Homo sapiens: one gene and its partners. The protein of the gene in region 1 interacts with the protein of each later gene in a pairwise test. Each region holds a gene or a part of one and is shown in the gene's direction. Other genes may lie near its edges.

Region 1 (3,758 bases):
AATGGATTCTTCAAATAACTTAGCCACGGGTGGGATAAGGGACCTACTTAGTAAGTATTTTTTCCCCTTCTTTCTTAAAAATAGATCGATGTCTTAGGGTGGGAATTAGGCTTCCTGGGCGACACATCTAATGCAAAGATCAGCCACCTTTTTCTGTAAAGGATCTGATGGTAAACATTTTCCACTTGGAGAGCTATGCTCTTGCAGCTACTCAGCTCTGCTATTGCAGTGCAAAAGCAGCTAAAGGCAACGGTAAAGGAATGAGGGAAGGAGCCTTAGTTTATTTACAATAAAGCTTTATTTGCAAAAGCAGATGCAAGCCAGACTTAGTTTGCTGATCTCTGATCTACAGTCAGAATACACAGAGAAGGAGAGATTTTGCCGTATAATTTAAAATACTTCTCTTTGCAAAAGCAGTCCATAAAAAAAGTGAGGACGACAAACTGAGAAAAATTATTCACAACATGTCTGATTGATAGAGCACTAATATTCTTAATTCAAAAAGACATTTTATCACAAAAGAAGACAAATACTTAGAAAATTGTGCAAAAGACTTTCCATTTTGTTGCATAACGTAGGAAGCTTTGGTTTTACTTTTCCTATCATCTTTCTAACTTCCAGTACCAGCCTAATTTTGTTATTTTTATTATTATGTATTTATTTTGAGACAGAGTCTTGCTCTGTCTCCCAGGCTGGAGTGCAGTGACCTGACGATAGCTTACAACAGCCTCTACCTCCCAGGTTCAAGAAATCTTCTCACCTTAGCTTCCCGAGTAGCTGGGACTGTAGGCACATGCCACCATGGCCAGCTAATTTTTTATTTTTTGTAGAGACAGAGTCTCATTATGTTGCCGAGGCTGGTCTTGAACTCGTGGCTTCAAGCAGTCCTCCTGCCTTGGCCTCCCAAAGTGTTGGGATTACAGGCATAAGCCACTGCTCCCAGCCTTATTTCGTATATTTACTATAAGTGTGTGAAGGTCATGATCAGAACTGCCATATATTTTGGCGGGAAAATCTATCACCCTCAGATCCAGAGTCCATGGATATCTTGTTTTTAAAACGAAGATTTAAAAAATTACGGCAATGGCAGAGATGGAGCCCCAAGAGAATACTCAGCTTTAACCCAAGGTGTTGACAGGTTGGAAACAGTGGCTAAATTTGGGGATTGCAGTGGGGCGAGGCAGGGTGCAGGTCAGAGGGGGCCAGAAGGGCCCCAGCCATCCTAGATGGAGCCACAAGTACCAGTGCCAAGGCTCTTGGTCTGGAATTCTGAAAACATTTACCTCTGACCCTGGCAGCCCACTGGCCATTGCTTGTGTGCAGCCCAGTTGGCAGGGAACCCTATCCATGATTTGCCGCCTCTTTTCTGGTCCCTTCAGTATGAACCCAGCATCACAGTGCACTTGTGGCAGATGGCAGTGCATACCCGGGAGCTACTCTCCTCCGGCCAGATGCCCTTCTCCCAGCTGCCCGCCGTGTGGCAGCTCTACCCCGGGAGGAAGTACCGAGCAGCGGATTCCAGTTTCTGGGAAATAGCAGACCATGGCCAGGCAAGTGTGTGGTGGTTCTAGGTGAAAGCGACAGGTGGCCCCTGGTGACTGCCGTGGCCCTCTCTCTTCTGTGCCCCTGGCCCCCTTGGGGTTCTTGTCTGTCCTCTTCCTGTTGCTCAAGTCTTCCTTCAAGGAGGCCTGAGTGTGTGTGGGTGGATCGGTGCATGAGTTCCCATGTGGGATGCAGGCAGAGTGGGTGAGGGAGGGAGGGTTGCCTTCCCTGGGCTAGGGAAATCCACAAGCTGGAGTTCCCACCTGCCTCACCCCTGCCTGCTGCTGCTGCCAGCCTGCATGGGCGGCCGTTAAGGCCAACTGGAAGAGCATCTCCCAGAGGTTCTGATGGCTGCTCCCTCTCCTGCAGATTGACTCTATGGAGCAGCTGGTCCTAACATATCAGCCGGAGAGGAAAGACTGACACTGGGAGTGGCTGGTATGTTGGGGCCCTGTGCGTCTCAGTGTAGGGATCAGACGAAAGTGAGAAGACCTCTCCTCTTTTCAGAAAGACGGCGTGGCCTCCTCCTCCCTGCTGTTTGCTGAGATTTTTCTTACATAGCCACCTGTCACCTCTGTTCCCCAGCCCCTTGGATGTGATGGTACACAGTGGGTGGGCCCCCATAATAAGTTCCTAAAGCATGGGATCTCATCGAATAAGACTCATCATTTAATCCTTGTGAGAATTTTGTGAGGTGTACGTGTTAATGTCCCATTTCACGACGAAAAGACAAGACTCTGGGGATGGGAATGACTTCCTCGAGACCATACAGCCAGGAAATAGCGGTGAATCTAGTGATCTCGGGTCCCTAGATTTAACCATGGCACTGAGGTGCCGTGTGACGGTGGCCTTGGAGGACCCAGCACTGACCCATAGAGGGCTCCTCTCAGATGGGCAGCAGCTTGGAGCAGGCCAGGCAGGGCCTGGGCCATTGGAGGGGCTGGCACTGGACTTGCCTTTGACCCCAGCAGCTTGGATGGGGTGCCGGGCTCCCCCATAGTTCACTGACTGTCTCCTTTGGTCTTCTCGCAGGCCCTGCTGGCCCTGCCTCTTCTGGCCTGGTGTCTCCTCATGCCCCCTCAGTGAGGATCTTCATGTACCTGCTCTTCTGTTTGCACACCCAGCATAGCCTCCTTGCAGGCAGAAGGCAGTAGGGCCCCTGCACACTCAGTTTCTCTCGTTTTCCTTAGTTATCAGTCCTGTCCTGTCCCACTCAGGTCTGTACTTAGGGCAGCTGGCCTGGATGGGCTTCACTGGGGCCCTGTCTGTGTGCTGAGCCAGTTTCCCCTGCTGGCTGCAAGCTGTGGGTTCTTTCTCCTCTGTGCCCCTCATGCTGATCTTCTAGATGCCACTCCCAAATCCCCTTCATACCCACCAGGATGTGTGCCCAGCCAGGCCTCCAGCACCCCCAGTGCAGCTCGTGATTGGAAACTCACCATCGGCAGGCAGTGGTTCGGTTTAAGAGATGGCATTAGAGGGAGCCCAGTCTGGATGTGGACTTGGATGCCCTGTGGGTATCAGTTCTGCTGACACTTTGGCCCGAAATAGATCCAGTGCTGAGCAAGCAATGTACACCAGAGCCTCAGTGAGCCCATCTGCACAGTGGGGAGCATGGAGGGATGGGTTTGGCCTGTGCTTCTGCTTATTCAGTCCTTCAGCTCACGGAAGGGATGCTAGTCCGTGAAGGTGACCTCACAGTACTGGTTAATTAAACTTTATTGCTCACTGTCCACTTTTGTGCTGAATTGGAGCCTCTCTTTGACCTCTTTCTAGCATAGAAATGGCAGCTTCTGGTACCGAAATGTTAAGGTAACATTTTAATGATCCATTTCATATTTTTCCACACTGGGAAGGAAATTGTGATTGGTCCATTCAGCAGCAGGACGTCGGCGGGAGTTAAGGAAGGGGAGGAGACTCGTGCGGGCTCTGGGTGAAGCCCTGCTGTGAAAGGGCAGGAAAGCCCGTAGTGGTCACAGGAGAACCGGGAGCAAGGGAGAGCTCCCAAAGCGAGACAATGCAACAGCATGTCATTGCAGGAGATGCAGAATGCAGGTGCAAGGGAGGAAGGGCCCATGTGTGGGAGAGTATGACATGACAGAGGAGCAGAGTCCTTGAGCAGGGAGGGATGAGGCAGGGGGCCAAGGCACTGAGCAGTGCCACCATTGTGACCAGGAAGAAGAGGACGATACAGTGCAGGTCAGGGTGACCATGCAGTG
Region 2 (3,658 bases), on another chromosome or scaffold:
GTGTTCCCTGAGTTGGTTAAATTGGTTGTTTAGAGCATGTGCCTGGACATAATGGAATCTCTGGCTGGTTCTGGTTTGATGAATGACTTTTAGGAAGCAGGTGCACACCTGTGCTTCCAGGCACCCATGGGTGTCATCGTAGTTCCCCAAATACCTCATTTATACTTAGTAATAGATTCATTCCAGCCAATGTGGGGGCAGTCTTTTTTGTATTATGTTAGACTGACCTGATTTGACTTTGAGATGTTGCAGTGTTTTCTCAGTGTGTTTCTGAGAAAAGAAAAAAATTATGTATTTCTAAAATTGAGATGCAGTGCAGGCAATTGGCAATGAGGGTTTCTTTTTTTACATCTCCGGTAATACTGTTGTCCCCTTTAAAAATCTGCTATAACAATGTCATTATTATGGAATGCTGCATGTATTCTAAATAACTTTTTAAACTTTAGAATTCTCAGAAAATCGACCGATTAGATGGTGCACATGCCCCAGAGTTGACCAAAAAAGTTCAGCGACATGCATCTAGTGGCTCCTTCCTACCCAGCGCTAATGAACATCTTAAAGAAGATCTCAACCTTCGCTTGAAGAAATTGACTCATGCTGCCCCCTGCATGCTGTTTATGAAAGGAACTCCTCAAGAACCACGCTGTGGTAAGAAGCTGCCTTTAACATAATATAAACAAAATGGGTGCTTTCCCAGAATGGGGTATGGTTGAGATGGGCATCCTGTTTCCAAGGATGCTATACCATACATCTTATACTTGTGTTCACATACTTTTAGAAAATCAAAAAGGTTATAATTCCCAATGACACTATATAAGAATTAGTTTGCATTATGGACTCAGCATGTTGGAACCAAAAGGGGTCTCAGAACTCATCTAATTCAGATTTTTGTTTTATACTGAAGTCCTCAGACTCAAAGATAGAGGTGACTTGCCCAAGGTCACCTGGTAAGCAGAGTTAGGATTAGGTTCCAACTACCATATTGCTGTCTCTTTTGCCTGTTTATCTACTTTTGCTGTTAACAGTTATTTTTTCTTTCTTGGCAGCCTCCTGTTTTTCACCTAGTTCAGATTCAGCAATTAAAAAATTTGCGGAATTTTTCAGTGTTTTTGTGTCCAGCCTGTGTGCTTTTGCCTCCCCTGTGTCATCACTGTCTAATGATTCTCTTCCTGCATTGCTGTCATTTCCAGTTTATAGCTGCTGGTAATGGAAAGATTCCGAATTCTTGGCTTGTAGTCACTCTTATTTTCTGTACACATGGATGCTTATAATTTTGTCCTTAAGTAAGTTTTAGAGTTATTTGACCCCTCTGGTAGTGGGTTTATGTTATTTTCTTTTTACTGTGCCTAGTACAACATTAGTATGCTGCATAATTGAGCATTTAATGCCATTTGATGATGCTGTTGAGACTCTAAGAGTATTTGTATCAACTACACAGGAGGGACTTTATTAAGATAGGGGCAGTAACATTGAGTATGCTCTTGATATGATTACAGCATGTCCAGAGTGACTTTATAAAGATAGCCAAGCTTCTAGTGTGAATTTGATTCTAAATTCTTCCCTGTAGGGTTATTAAATTACATATTAGCTTATGATAATGTCTAGTTTTAAAAATAAAGTTTCATGATGAATTCTTATTTTTTCGAGATGGAATTTCGCTCTTGTTGCCCAGGTTGGAGTGCAATGGCACGATCTCAGTGCGACGGAACCTCTGTCTACTAGGGGTCAAGCGATTCTCCTGTCTCAGCCTCCCGAGTAGCTGGGATTACAGGTGTCCACCACCATGCCCGGCTAATTTTTTTGTATTTTTAGTAGAGATAGGGTTTGTCCATGTTGGTCAGGCTGGTGTCAAACTCCTGACCTCAGGTGATCCGCCTGCCTTGGCCTCCCAAAGTGCTGCTGGGATTATAGGCGTGAGCCACCATGAATTCTGTCTTAAAAGTATCTCTTAGTTCTGCCTAAAAAATTTCCCTGCCAGTATTTATGTGTCAGATAATGCCTGCTATTTGTGTATTGCAAAGCTAACTTAGTCTGTACTAAACTAAAGGTAGCAACAGATAGTCTCTGTTGCGTTTGTTATTTTGTTTTTAACGGGGGTTGCAAATGGTTCACATTCACCTTCTTCCATGAAACATGAAAATTATTTCTTGTACTTTGTGCGGTGGCCACTAAATGGGAACTTACCACTTCAGTTGAATGGATTGTATTCAGCACCTTCATTCAGATCTCAGGTACAGTAGAACTGGCTGTGAAATGTGGGTGAAGCACACCTACAGTGAAATCTCTACAGTATTCTCTCCTTTGGGGTTGAACAGCAGCAGTCTCAGTCTTTTCTGAATGATAAACCTAATGAAAAGGCAGGTGGCAACACTGAAGCTTGGGGAAGGAGTGCTCAGAGGAGAAGGATGTCCTGGGAAGTGTGCTGCACTGGGTGTCATGCCAGGCGAGCCTCAGGCCCACCCCTGCGGCCTTAGCAACTTTGGGGACAAGTCAGGTACCCTCCTTGTGCCTTTAATTCCTTCTAGTGCTGTTGGGAACAAGATTGGCTGTTGGAGCCAATCTTGGAGGGCCTTTTCAGTGTAGATATTGTATGATTATTCAAGTAAATTAGAGAGAAACTTAGACATTTTAATTTTTCTGCTTACCTTTTACTTTATTAAACTGAATTTAAAATATACTGCTAGCATTTTTATATTTATATTAAACTTATTTAAATTATGTTTATTATAATGGAGTGAGATTTGGAAGACTGTACAAATAACAGAATAAAAAAGAAGCTTTGAAATATTTCAGGGCTGGGCGTGGTGGCTCATGCCTGTAATCCCAGCACATTGGGAGGCTGAGGTGGGCGGATCGCTTGAGATCAGGAGTTCGAGACCAGCCTGGCCAACATGGCGAAACCCCGTCTCTACTAAAAATACAAAAATTAGCTGGGCATGGTGGAGTCCTGTAATTCCAGCCACTTGGGAGGCTGAGGCAGGAGAATTGCTTGAACCTGGGAGGCAGAGGTTGCAGTGAGCCGAGATCGAGCCACTGCACTCCAGTATGGGTGACAGAGTGAAACTCTGTCTCAAAACAAAACAAAACACATTTCAGAGCCATCTGAAAACGTAGTATTATAGTTATTTAATTAATAAAAGACAATAAATATTTTGAGATACATATGGTTGAATGGTTACAGTTTCTTCTTTTAAAGTACTTCTATATAATTTTTATAACTACATTTTCAGTGGGTTTTTCTGTTTCCTGATATTTTCTGTTTCATGTCTTTCTGTCACATATAGTAAATAGATCATTTAAGAATGTTGCTGTTCTTTAATAAAATACTTAGGATTAATTGGAAAATATTTTTAAACTGTTTTCTTATGGGAACATAAGTCACCTCGACCCTCTGCTGTTCCTTTCTGAGCCTGGTTAGTGGAGCATTGTTTTTGCTCTTCTTCTGGCATTTTAGAGAAGGGCGTAGGCAAAGCTCCCTTTATAAAAGCACTGGCCATCTCATCTTGTGAACACGCACGTGGCTGCTCTTTCCTTATTTTGCACCAAATTAGCTTTGAAAGTGCTATCTCTGCTAACACCACTGAACTCCCACTGCGGAGTATTTTGATGTTTGTTTTTTGATTAGTTTGTCCCCACCTTGCTTTCTGCTAATCAGAAA
Region 3 (2,310 bases), on another chromosome or scaffold:
GTTGAGTCTTCCTTGTTAAATAGTTGAGTAGCTATAATTCCTTAATATTAAAGTGGTGGTAATTTTAAGTACCTAGAAGTCAAATTCACTCTGAAGCTATCTTAGGTGTGTGATATTTGAGCACCTATGTTTATTTATGTAATATAGCACTACTATAGGAAATTATTTTATGGTTTTTATGTAACTTTTTTTGTGAAGGAATAAGCATGCTTATAGTAATGCAGCTCGCAATTTTGTTAAAGAGAAGTTTGACTCTTAACCAAACATATCAGAATGGAACCATAATTCTAAGTGACTGACTGCTTTGTTTAATCACAGATGTAGTTGCATGGTGAGGTGAGACTGATGATTTTGCTGATCTTCTGCACTGAACTTTGTGTCACTATTAAGGCAGAAGAAATGACAGGCTTTGTTTTTAAGGGCATCTGCATTGTAAAATAGCTGTCTTAAGAAAAATGTACTGATACGAAATCAGCTGTATTCTGTGATTTATGTGATTTGAAAATAAACTGTCAGTGGCCAAACGGAAGGTATTTTTGTTTTAAACATGCCTTAATACCTTTGGAGTGGTCTGTTGGTCTAATTTGTTTTCTAGATTTAATGAAATTACACTGTAATTTTTATTTTTTATGGTGTTGTATATAGACTCAGGTGAAAAAATTAGGAAAATGTGACCTATTTTTTCATTTGGGATTGAAGCAGCCAATGAAATCCATGAAATTTTATAGAGGAAGATGAGAATGTAGAGAACTGGAACTAACAAAATGCCTTGTACTTGTCTGTCTTCTATAGCACGCTCCCTGAAATTTGGCAGGCAGACTGGAGGTGAAGAGGGAGATGGAGCTTCTGGGTATGATGCTTATTGGAAGAACCTTTCATCTGATAAGTATGGTGATACCAGCTACCACGATGAGGAGGAGGATGAGTATGAAGCAGAGGATGATGAAGAGGAAGAAGATGAAGGCAGAAAGGATTCAGATACTGAGTCATCAGATTTGTTTACTAATTTGAATTTAGGAAGGACCTATGCTAGTGGCTATGCTCACTATGAGGAACAAGAGAACTAGGGGAGCTGCTCTGGTGGCCGTGTGTGAGAGGAGCAGGAGTGAGTGTGTGTGCTTGATGAATTGTGTGTGGTTGTTCAAAAGTACCTTAGCCACTTAGCCTTGTGCAGAAGACTAGTTACACTTAATGGGCCAAGCAATAGGGTGTAGCGTTTTTATAGAACTGATAATCAGGCTTATGGCATAAGAAAAATGAGTTTCAAATTTAAGATGTTTATTGATCGAAGCAATTGAAGTATCATGGATTGGATTGTTACTGATTTCAGTAAAGTATGTTTTGCCAATTAGATACATATATACAAGATAAAGGAATAGGATGGTAATATATTTGTTTGAAATTAAATTACTGTTTTTATTAAAAAATACTGCTTCATTGGGCTGATTTTGTAAAATGTAATGAGTAAAATGAATTACTGTATTTTTCCTTTTATGTCCACAGAATGAGAGTCATATGTTGTTATATTCTAAATTTTCATTAAATATTCATGTCACCTTGAGTTGTCATGATAAGTATGTTTTAGTATTTGACTTATTCTTCTCTTTCTTCACAATGTATGTCCTCAGTGGTACCTATTATTGATGCCTTAAATGTATTGATAAGGTGACTAGTTAGCCATTTTTCAGAGATACAGTATCAGAAATAGTATTATTACAGAAGCTTTACCCAGGACATTTTATTTCTCTTTGAATAAATCTATTATTTCACTTAAATACTTTTGACATTATATTTAATTTTTTGTTCTGTATTTTCAGTTTGTTTTGGAAAGCATTCTAATTTTTTTACAAACTGCTTCAGTTTTCACACATATGGAAATAGGTAATAGAGACTGTGTGGTATACACTTAAAGATAAGCAGCCCAGACCCCATCATTGATAGGTGGAGGACAGTCCTGTCACAAGTCCCAGTTGTTACAACTTAACACTGGCATTTAATAGGGATTGGGTAGTTGTACAAGGAGAGACAATATCTGATTGCCTCACATTTTAGATGTATGGAGAAAATTGTAGCTATGAGGATAACAGGGTTGAATGGCCATTGTTAAGCCATTTTTGTTCTATAGAAGCATACTTAACAGCCAAGGACAATAACAGGCAATGGAAAGCCAGGTGTCAAAGTTAGAGGGCCTCTGGTGGCATGTGAAAAAGCTTTTCACCTTTTGCAGTAGGACGGCTTGAAAAAACTGAGGAGCAAGCCCGAGACTTAATAGTTTCAAAGGATAAAATTTAAAGACAGTTGCCAGCCAAG

Evidence for each region.
Region 2: the proteins of TCL1B (region 1) and GLRX3 interact in binary tests that used the Homo sapiens proteins (3 or more experiments, as listed by UniProt).
Region 3: the proteins of TCL1B (region 1) and ZNF330 interact in binary tests that used the Homo sapiens proteins (3 or more experiments, as listed by UniProt).

Annotation. Positions count from the first base shown.
Region 1 is NC_000014.9:95,689,357-95,693,114, forward strand, and holds the end of TCL1B (T-cell leukemia/lymphoma protein 1B), read left to right. Parts: intron 1-1,379; coding exon 1,380-1,550; intron 1,551-1,911; coding exon 1,912-1,965; 3' UTR 1,966-1,980; intron 1,981-2,574; 3' UTR 2,575-3,272; downstream 3,273-3,758. UniProt on the Homo sapiens protein: Enhances the phosphorylation and activation of AKT1 and AKT2.
Region 2 is NC_000010.11:130,160,350-130,164,007, forward strand, and holds part of GLRX3 (glutaredoxin-3), read left to right. Parts: intron 1-446; coding exon 447-648; intron 649-3,658. UniProt on the Homo sapiens protein: Together with BOLA2, acts as a cytosolic iron-sulfur (Fe-S) cluster assembly factor that facilitates [2Fe-2S] cluster insertion into a subset of cytosolic proteins.
Region 3 is NC_000004.12:141,232,923-141,235,232, forward strand, and holds the end of ZNF330 (zinc finger protein 330), read left to right. Parts: intron 1-792; coding exon 793-1,067; 3' UTR 1,068-1,775; downstream 1,776-2,310.